2 separate regions of the Homo sapiens genome follow, and region 1 is linked to region 2. A link means that fine-mapping ties the variant in region 2 to the expression of a gene that starts in the linked region. Tissue or cell type: adrenal gland. Region 2 holds a variant in brackets; the other region holds the start of a gene. All regions are shown on one strand. Distances are from middle to middle.

Evidence for each region. PIP is the estimated chance that this variant, and not a neighbour inherited with it, causes the effect.
Region 1: LTK starts here. The variant in region 2 is the best candidate, but not a certain one, in a credible set for the expression of LTK in adrenal gland (GTEx, PIP 0.54).

Annotation. Positions count from the first base shown.
Region 1 is chr15:41,511,175-41,516,542 of GRCh38, reverse strand. LTK (leukocyte receptor tyrosine kinase) reads left to right here and starts at 2,716. Exons shown (of 20, transcript NM_002344.6): 1 at 2,716-2,876; 2 at 3,423-3,566; 3 at 3,665-3,836; 4 at 4,278-4,428; 5 at 4,580-4,726; 6 at 4,965-5,121; 7 at 5,197-5,368. The coding sequence starts at 2,834. RefSeq lists a silencer at 3,351-3,430 and an enhancer at 3,137-3,884.
Region 2 is chr15:41,908,949-41,914,316 of GRCh38, reverse strand. It overlaps EHD4 (EH domain containing 4), which reads left to right. Exons shown (of 6, transcript NM_139265.4): 5 at 4,454-4,618. Among named protein-coding and RNA genes, the nearest start is that of EHD4-AS1, 9.8 kb to the left of the region's middle. The variant G/A (reference allele first, on the strand shown) is at 2,619.

The sequences.
Region 1 (5,368 bases), 400 kb after region 2:
TTTGGTAGTTTCTACATTGTTCTTTGGTCTGAATTCTAAACTTTAGGCTTTCTTAGACTGTCTTTTGCTGTGTGGATTACTTATTGTGTTTGCAAGTAACCAGAGTCAGAGCAGTGTGCCAAGGCCTAGCCCTGTCAGTAGGTAGAGAGAACCCAGTCTTCATAAATGGAGCTGCTGAACACAGAATTATCCAATAGGTTTTTTTGGGTTTTTTTTTTTTTTTTTTTGACACGAAGTCTTGCTCTGTTGCCCAGGCTGGAGTGCAGTGGGGCAATCTCAGCTCACCACAACCTCCCCCTCCCTAGTTCAAGCCATTCTCCTGCCTCAGCCTCCCAAGTAGCTGGGATTACAGGCGCGTGCCACCACGCCTGGCTAATTTTTGTATTTTTAGTAGAGATGGGGTTTTGCCATGTTGGCCAGGCTGGTCTTGAACTCGAACTCCTGACCTCATGATCCGCCCGCCTCAGCCTTCAAAAGTGCTGGTATTACAGGCATGAGCCACTGGGCCCAGCCTTTTTTTCTTTTTTTTTTTTGAGACAGAGTCTTACTCTGTAGCCCAAGCCAGAGTGTAGTGGCATGATCTTGGCTCACTGCAACCTCCGTTTCTGAGGCTCAAGTGATTCTCATGCCTCAGCCTCCCGAGTAGCAGGGGCTACAGGCATGCACCACCACACCGGGCTAGTTTTTTGTATTTTTATTAGAAGCGGTGTTTTGCCATGTTGCCCAGGGTGGTCTCAGACTCCTAAGCTCAGGCAATCCGCCCACCTCAGCCTCCTAAAGTGCTGGGATTATAAGTGTGAGCCACAGCATGTGGCCCCAATAGGTTTTATTAAGCAACTACTGTATCAGCAAATACCAATGATTCTCAAACTTTGTGACAAAAATCATCTGGAGGATATTTTAAAACAGATCACTGGGTCCTACCACCAGAAGCTGCTGATTCAGTACATCTGGGGTGAAACCCAAGAATCTGCATTTCTAACAAGTTCCCAGGTAATACTGATGCTGATGTTCAGAACAAACCACACAACCACAATTTGAAGAGCAGTGGCTTAAAGAGACTTTGCAAGGTAAATTCTGTGATCTCATAGTGTGATATCTAGTGTTAAGTAGGGCATAGAGACCAGGGTTTTTTTGTTTTTTGTTTTTTTTGAGATGGAGTCTCACTCTGTCACCCAGGCTGGAGTGTAGTGGTGCAATCTCGGCTCACTGCAACCTCTGCCTTCCAGGTTCAAGCAATTCTCTGCCTCAGCCTCCCAAGTAGCTGGGATTACAGGCACCTGCCACCACGCACGGCTAATTTTTGTATTTTTAGTAGAGACGGGGTTTCACCATCTTAGCCAGGCTGGTCTTGAACTCCTGACCTTGTGATCCACCCCACCCCCACCGTCCCCTTGGCCTCCCAAAGTGCTGGGATTACAGGTGTAAGCCACCACGCCTGGCTGAGACCAGACTTTTTACAAAATCACTGTTCTGTTTACACCTTGAATTATACTCAGACTTTACCAAGTAGCTAACTACTATAACTTCTCTTTTGAAGTATTTTGTATTAAACATAGGTCTCAGACTTTCAAGTTAGGATTTTTTTTTTTTTTTTTTTTTTGAGATGGGGCTTTGCTCTTGTTGCCCAGGCTGGAGTGCAATGGTGCGATCTCGTCTCTGCAACCTCTGCCTCCCAGGTTCAAGCCATTCTCCTGCCTCAGCCTCCAGAGTAGCTGGGATTACAGGCGTGCGCTACCACGTGTGTCTGATTTTGTATTTTTAGTAGAGACGGGATTTTGCCATGATGGTCTAGCTAGTCTCGAACTCCTGACCTCAGGTGATCTGCCCGCCTCAGCCTCCCAAAGTGCTAGGATTACAGGCATGAACCACCGCACCCGGCAAATGATCATTTAAGCAAATGATCGAAGACTCAAGACACAAAACTACCTGAAGGGAGTGGCTCCCACATTTGTAGGGTACCTTACAGAGCAATTTCCCTTCATATGATTTTGCAGGTGGTGGGGAAACTCTCAGGGCAGTTGTGGCCTGTGCTACATCACCCATTGACCAGAGGTGCCAGTACTAGTGCTCAAGATCAATCGATCGATCGGTCTACCTACCTATCATCTATTGACCTTCAGTGCTACTAAAAACACTCGGATCTTCTAACGTCTGGTCCAGTCTTTCACCCCATCACAGTGAGAGGCTGTGCACAGGGGTAACACAGGCAACGGAATTATATGAGGCAAACACAGAGATCCAGGTTTCTGGGAGTAGCAATGAGGTTCAGCCTTGCAGTCACAAAGGCACCACTAAAAGGCACAAGTAATGGCAGGTAATGAGGCCTTACTTGGAGCAGTTTAGAGTACTTCCCACGTGTGGTGACGCATGCCACACACTCACCACCACCACCACTGCCACAAATGAAGTGCACACTCCACTGCTCCTGTCCTCAGGAACCTGGAAGCCCCCACCTGGTGTCCGAGGTGTGGCTCCCACTTTAAGCGTGGGGCACCTCCTCTCCGGCCTCAAACCTACCGGAGCTCCCAGCAGGCTGCGGCACATCTGACGGCTGGAAACTAGAACCCCTGGGTGGGGACTCCTTAAGGCTCCTCCCGGAAGCGTAGGGACCTCGCTGCCCACACGCCCCTCCCTTTCCTCCTCTGGCGTCCTGGGGTCTGAGGTGGGCGTGGCCAGACCAGCTTTAGGTCCGGGGAGTGTCTCGCCAGCGGCAGCACACCCCTGTAAGTGGTGGCCAGGGCTGCCGTGGCAAAATGAGCTGTCAACTTTAGGTTGACAGGGGTGTGGCCGCGACCGCAAGGGCTTTTGTTGCCGGGTGGACCCAACAGGGATGGGCTGCTGGGGACAGCTGCTGGTGTGGTTCGGAGCCGCGGGTAAGTGCTATCTGGCGGTCAGGGGACCGTCCAGCCTGAGGCACTTTCCTAGGCTTGGGGGTGGCCGGTCAACAGGCCAGGTGTCAGTGGTTCCTCCAGAGGCCTCGAACTCTCACAGCCAAATTTCTCCGGTCCGTGCTTCTGGAGTGCGGGCCGAGAAGCGCCAAGTGCGTGCGAATCCCAGAGTCTGGATCACGCAGCTTGGGAAGGAGGAACATTCTTTGGGGTCTCAGCACCGCCTTGGGGCGGGGCCACCAATCTAAGTTGAGGAAAGCATTGGGGAGGCTGCAGGACCAAATTCATTGCGGCCCCTAAGTTATTCACTGGGAAAGGCGCTCGAGGAGAGAAACTGGCAGACCTATCAGCGCGCACCCGCGGGGCTTCTGCGACCGGAGTCGGGTAGTGGCTTCCAGGCTGAGAGCGCGGCTGGGCCGGGTGACGGGTGTGGCCGCGACCGCAAGGGCAGCTGTTGCGGGGTTCTCTCTTTCTTTCATATCCTATTTCCACCCGCCTTAACGTCCTGCGCCTTCTCCCAACACCTTTCAGGCGCCATTCTCTGCTCTAGCCCGGGGTCCCAGGAGACTTTTCTGCGGTCCTCGCCCCTGCCGCTGGCAAGTCCCAGCCCCCGGGACCCGAAAGTCAGCGCCCCGCCTAGTATCTTGGAGCCAGCCTCCCCGCTGAATTCTCCGGGTGAGCTTTAGACGCCTCCTTCCTCTTTCGCTCACCATACCAGACCCCTCTGGCCCAGCCAGGGGCTCGACGACCCTTGCCTCGCTCCTTGCTCTCAGGCACCGAGGGGTCTTGGCTGTTTTCTACCTGCGGGGCCAGCGGCCGGCATGGGCCCACACAGACACAATGTGACGGGGCGTACGCGGGGACCAGCGTGGTGGTGACCGTGGGGGCCGCCGGGCAGCTGAGAGGCGTGCAGCTGTGGCGCGTGCCGGGCCCTGGCCAGTATCTGTAAGTGCACGGCGGAGGTAGGGTGGACAGTGACCTGCTAGTTGGAGGTTTCACCCTCAGGGTAACGAAGTCCACGTGCGCACCGACTTGCGTCTTGGACTATTCCGCGGGGAGGTCCACCTTGAGTGCCCTTCAAGGTGGCAGTAGTCGCCACCGAGTTAGCCCTTACCCGGAACCTCTTACACCGAGCGGAAGGCCCCCAACCAGGGCGGCGCCAAGGGGTGCTTGAGCCTCCCCACATTTCCACGAACCCTCCTGAAATAAGTGTAATATCTGATTTTTCGGTGTGCAAACCTACCCTTCCCATCCCGTCAGAGTCGATTGCAGCCTCCAAGTCCCTCAGATAAAAAATAATTCTGGAGCCTCCTCTGTCGCCAACTTCTGCCCGGAGCGGCCGGCCTGAGCACCGAAGGCCGGGGACTCACCGTCCGTTCCCCGCAGGATCTCAGCCTACGGAGCCGCGGGCGGCAAAGGCGCCAAGAACCACCTGTCGCGGGCGCATGGCGTCTTCGTCTCAGCAATCTTCTCCCTCGGTCTCGGGGAGTCGCTGTACATCCTGGTGGGGCAGCAGGGAGAGGACGCCTGTCCCGGAGTGAGCGCAGCCAGTGGGGATGGGGCGGCGCCGGCGCCGGGGGCGAGGGCTGCCTGGGGGCCGGGGGAGCGTGCTTTCCTCGGTGCCGGGTCACCAGCACAGCGAGGGGAGGCTCCCGGGCCCCGCCGATTCCCTCCCCCGCTGCCCGCAGGGTAGCCCGGAGAGCCAGCTCGTCTGCCTCGGGGAGTCTCGAGCCGTTGAAGAGCACGCGGCGATGGATGGGAGCGAAGGGGTCCCGGGGTCGCGGCGCTGGGCGGGAGGTGGCGGGGGTGGCGGGGGCGCCACCTACGTTTTCCGGGTACGTGCTCCCTTCGGCGCTCAGCGTTGGGGTCCCAATCCTCTCCCCAGGGGCGCTCACGCACCGGCTCTCCGTCCGTCCCTTGGGGTCCCCCTATCCCTGCGCTGGGCTGGGCTGGCCTGGGCTGGGCTGGGGGCCCCTGCCCTTATCCAGGCCCCCTGGGCGGGAGCCCTCTCCCAGTGGCAGTGCCCCTGGACAGCTGGAGGGCGCTTCCTGGAACACGCCGCTGGCCCCACAGGTGCGCGCTGGCGAGCTGGAACCGTTGCTGGTGGCGGCCGGAGGCGGCGGTCGGGCCTACCTGAGGCCGCGGGACCGAGGCCGGACTCAGGCCTCCCCCGAGAAACTGGAGAACCGCTCGGAGGCGCCCGGGAGCGGCGGGAGAGGCGGGGCGGCAGGTGAGGGCGCGGGCCGCGGGGAGAGGCGGGCGTGCTCCCCGTGTGGCTGCCAACCTTCCTGCTGTCGCTCTGCAGGTGGTGGGGGCGGCTGGACGTCGCGGGCTCCCTCTCCGCAGGCCGGCCGCTCACTGCAGGAGGGGGCGGAGGGCGGCCAGGGCTGCTCCGAGGCTTGGGCGACCCTTGGCTGGGCCGCGGCCGGCGGCTTCGGGGGCGGCGGCGGGGCCTGCACTGCGGGCGGAGGCGGCGG
Region 2 (5,368 bases):
TGCAGGTTTCCAGAGCTGGGCTTCCAGCCGCAGGTCTCCAGCAGGTTGCGTTAAGTTTGCAGATGAGCGTGGCACAGTGTGTCACCATGCCTTCCCAGCCCGCCTTCCCCAAACTACTGCCTGATCCTCACATTCCATGAAGCTTTTCATTCCAGCACTGGTCGCTTCCAGCATCCAGCACTCGCTGAAGTTACCCTCCAAGCCCAGAGTAGATGTGGCCAGTATCACTCTTTAGTACATGTGTCTCAGTCTTGGAGGCACACACACACACACACATCATTGGACACAATGAGATCTGTGTCAGAGTGTACGTGTGAACTACATATACATTCATATACATTTAAAAGGAAGGACTTTCCTTTCTGCTCATTGAGTTATTAGCCTAGAGAAAAATTGTCATTTTGTCATTTTGATCCATTTGATTTCCCCCAGTCATCCCCATTAGATGCCTTAGGGCTTCTGCAAGTTTACACAAGGCAAAGGATGACTTGAACAAGATACGAATGTTCAAAAGCCCCCAGGGGTCAATGTAAATTAAACACTTGGAACCCAAATTCATTATATTACTATTTAAATAGAGAGAGTTTATTAATTATTTGGTAAGGAGTAACCAGCCGGGAGCCCTCTCTCTCATTACTGTACCTCCAGCTGTTGGTCTTTGGCCATTAGTTGATAACAAGTTAACATTTGCTCCTCTTTCTAGTGAGCAGAGTGCATTCAAATACATGACCTCTTTTATTCTCATAATAACTCTGTGAGATGAATGTTGTTGTCATTTCTAATTTGTGGATGAGCACGCTGAGGTGGAGATGCCATGCCTGGCCCCAAGTTGCTCAGTGGGTAGGCAGTGGTCACGGGGCCTGAGCCTCATCTTCAAGCTCCAGGTCTAGTCCCCCTCTTCTCTTTCGTACTCCTCCTCTTCCCAATTAGTTTTCTCTCATTATAAAGGTCAGAAGACCCAAGTGTTTCCACCTCCTTCCCCAGGGACAACCACCAGGTCTGGCCCTGGGTCTGGCATGTATTTGGAGACACCTTTGACACATAATTGCAGGAGTGATCTCTGGAGGCTGACTGTGGATTTTAGTCATTCAAGCTGTCCCGTCTGTTTACCAGAAGACTTTAGAAAATGACAGGATGCCATCCTGCCAGCAGCTCGCAGTCTTCACCCGCATTCCCACGTGGTGTCCCGACGTTTGTGTGCCATCATTGTGTCCGTGTTTGATGTGTGGGGAAAGGGAGAATAAAGGACCCTTCCAAAGCCTCTCAGTGAATTAGGCACGAGCAGAAGTCAAACCTCAGATCAAAGTTTTCCAGACTCATTCTATGGGACACAGTTCATTTTGAATTCCAGATTTTGAACAACTTCAGTAAGATTATTAATGCATACCCACAGGGCATACCCACAGGGAGTCATTAGTTCTTTAGGGACAGGAACGAGGCACTTGGATGCTAGTGCCAGCTCTGTATCTACCAACTAGCTGTATGACCTTGAGTGAGTCACATGGATGTCCTGGAACCAGGAATTAAAGTAGATATTGGGGGGTCACTTCCAGATTCAGTATTTCATGATGCTAAGGATTATAATTTACCTTGTGACTTGATGAATTTTTTTTTCTTTTTTTGAGATGGATTCTTGCTGTGTCACCCAGGCTGGAGTGCAGTGGGGCAATCTCAGCTCACTGTGACCTCTGCCTCCCGGGTTCAAGCTATTCTCCTGCTTCAGCCTCCCGAGTAGCTGAGACTATAGGAGCACACCACCACACCCAGCTAATTTTTGTATTTTTAGTAGAGACAGGGTTTCACCACATTGGCCAGGCTAGTCTCAAACTCCTGACCTTAAGTGACCCACCTGCCTCAGCCTCCCAAAGTGCTGGGATTACAGGCATGAGCCATCGTGCCTGGCCAACTTGATGAACTTCTGAAAGCAGGTCTGTGCACAGAAGTTGGCCCTGGGTTATTGTTTAGGGCGCACCAGGAAGGGCAGGACGCGGGTGGACATGCAGAGGCAGCGTAACAGGAGACTTCCACAAACCTCGCTAACAGAACTTCCTAGAAGTGGAGGCTGGGACCGAGAGCAGCTGCAGTGTGAGCAGGTCACCTAAGGGTCATGACTCAGGTGGCACCAAGCTGGCGGAAGGAGGAGGGAGTTGAGACCTGGCACAAGATCAGCCCCAGGTTTATCAGGGCTGTGAAGGCCTAGTGTCGGGGCCACCTCGGTCATCAGCCAGCAAACACCATGAGGCCTGAGACGAGGGATCAGGTGACACTCAGTGGGTGAAGGGTGTGGCAGGTGCACATCAGCTGAGTTCAGTGCAGGTAAAGCAGGCCCTGGGCACCAGGGAGTGTTCAGGAACAGTGTGCCCAACCTCGGGGGGTGGGCGGCAGGGAGTGGGTGAGGAGTCAGCCAGATGAGCGGGAACTAAGCCCTCCCTGAGCTGGGGCCTGGCGGCTCAGAGGTACCTTACTAGTACGTGGTGAGGGCTCTTGGGAAGCCCTACAGAGGCCTAGGCAGCTGCTCCAGGGCTAGGCCCCAGAGCAGGGAAGGGGGTGGTCTCAATAAGAAGCCCTTGTGTTTGGGAGACTGAGCAGCTGTGGGGGCCTCCTGCTTCCCTTGGGGT[G/A]GCTCCAGGGTGGGGTGAGCCTGAGCACAGAAGAGAGAGGTATACATAGGTATACATAGAGAACATACTCATAGGCCCAATCCAGAATTTCCAGGAAGGTGGAGGCCAAGGAAATGATGCAAGGACAGCTGGTGAGCAGCTGGTTCTCCCTGATGGAACGTGGCAGCTCCTCCAGTCCAAGGGTGCTCCCTCAGCCCTGGCCCTCCCCAGCCCACCCACACCAAGCCAGGCATTCACTGTCGGAGGCAAAGGAGTTGGTATCTTACCACTTGCTCATCACAGCGGTTAAAGCCCAGGATTCTAAATAACGGATCCCAAACTTCGGGTTTCTCAAGTTATCTCTAAGAATCTTGTAAATCATTTCAATTGTCTTCATTTGAAAAATAAGTACATAAACAAGTTTGCTGGTGACAGAAAGGTTTAGCGTCATCTCTCCAAGACCATCCTCTCAGCGGTAGCCAGGCTGCACAGTGCATGCTTCTGTTAAACGACCCTTGTGCAGATGGGAAGTTGACATTGTCTGACCTCAGCATGTCAGACCTTGCATTAGGTACTTAGGTTAGCATCCAAATCCTCACAAAATGTTTTTGGCTGTGTCCAGCATGTGTCCACACACGGGCCCTCAGCTGAGCTATGGAATGTATCTGCTTACCCCCTTTATTTAATTTCAACTTCTACAAGATTACAGTAGAAGTCTGTTTTCTTTAATAGGATTTTCCGTTGCTACATAGTCATTTTCTTTTTGTAATCACCACTCTGTTTTTCATCCTTTCTTATTTTAGTTACTTACTTGACTTCACAATTACTCTGAAGTTCAAGATATACAAAGTAGCCGGGCATGGTGGTTCATGCCTGTAATCCCAGCACTTTGGGAGGCCAAGGTGGGTGGATCACCTGAGGTCAGGAGTTCGAGACCAGCCTGGCCAACATGGTGAAACCCCGTCTCTACTAAAAATACAAAAATTAGCCAGGCGTGGTGGTGCACACCTGTAATCCCAGCTACTCGGGAGGCTGAAGCAGGAAAATCGCTTGAACCAGGAGGTGGAGGTTGCAGTGAGCCAAGATCACGCTGTTCCACTCCAGCCTGGGCAACAGAGCGAGATTCCATCTCAAAAATATATATATACAAAGAGAACTTTTGTAGTGAACATTTCTTAATATCCTGAAGTTGGAAATCAGTAGAAGAGTGGAAATGTTGAGGCCAGATTCTCGCCCCTCCAATGACAGCCTGCTGGCTACCCCAAGCCCCAGTGATCAAGGTTTCTGGGGCTTCTGGGCTCCTCTCCCAGGGGGATCTTCTGCCATCCAGCCTGATCCCAGGCAGCTGGTCTTGTGCAGAATGACTTTAATTCCACCTGTAGAGATCTCAGAGTCTAAACCTCCCATAACAGGGGGGTTATGGGGATTCTCATCTCATCGTTCACTGGGTACAGATTTCCATGTTGATCAGCCATTGATGCCAGCCTCCAGTTTCATTTCCTGTTGCTCCCAGGCACCAGCCTGGTGAAACTTTCTCCTGGGTATTCTGGTTAATTGCCAGAACTAAGAGCTCTCCCACCCAGGCCCCACCCATACCACTCACTCCCTACAGACACCAGAATTGCCACTCAGAGGCACAACAGAACAGTAGCCGTAGAATTTCCCCAAGTCTGGCCACATTCCGGCCACCCTTGGACAGCTCCACTCCCCCTGGACCCTCCCCTCCTCCTGTCCTTGGGACCTGGTTTGTGTGGGTACCTGTTATGTGTTATGATGGAGTTAAGATGCAATCTTGTTTGTTCCTTCTCTGATGCAATTCTAAATGACACTTCCCTGCCTGATCTATACCCCTCCAGGTGCATGCCTACATCATCAGCTACCTGAAGAAGGAGATGCCAAGTGTATTTGGAAAGGAAAACAAGAAGAGAGAGCTTATCAGCAGGCTACCGGAAATCTACATTCAGCTACAGCGAGAATACCAGATTTCTGCAGGGGACTTCCCTGAGGTCAAGGCTATGCAGGTACTGGGAGCCCACTACAATGTCACGGGCAGAGGGCAGAGGTGCAGTGCCACATTGTCTGGCTGTTTGCTGGAGACAAATGAGAGTCCCATGGTTTAGGATCAAGGACAACGCATCTTCCTAATGGTGATCCATGATAATAGGCTATGAATAAAGCAGAAATTGCCTGTCTTCCAAAATGCGTAAACAAAGGAAACACATGGCCAAAGGTAAATGAAGCTCCCATGAGAAAGTCAGGTGAGCAGCCCTCTTAGACTGTGTCCAAGGAGGCTGGTTGATGTTGCGGTGACATTGGAATCCCAGAACTGTGAGGGAATCACAGCTGGGAGTGGCCTTCAGGGTCACCTTGGGCGGCCTCCTCCAGCCCTGCCCTGACCTGCCTCACGCCGTGGGATTATGTGCTCAGGCAGCCTTGCTGCTGCAGGCTCAAGGGCTCCAGCAGGGGCTGTGGGGCTCTGCGGACGCTGCTGGACTGCGTGGGCACAGGGAGGACTGTGCTTAAAGGCTGGTGCTGGGCAGCCATTGGCCTGCTGTCAAGGCCTCTCTTGAGTTGTGGCTGGGCAGCTCCAGCCAGGCAACAATGGGTGCTGCATTCAGCCGTCCTGCCCTGACCGGCATATCTACCTCTCTGCACTGCTGTTAGACGAGCGTGTCCTCACAAGCGAGGCCACCCATCTGGCTTCTGGGCTGACAGTCCTCACAGAGCCAGGCTGGCCGTCTTCTTATCTGCTGCAAGGACCCCTCTGCCCT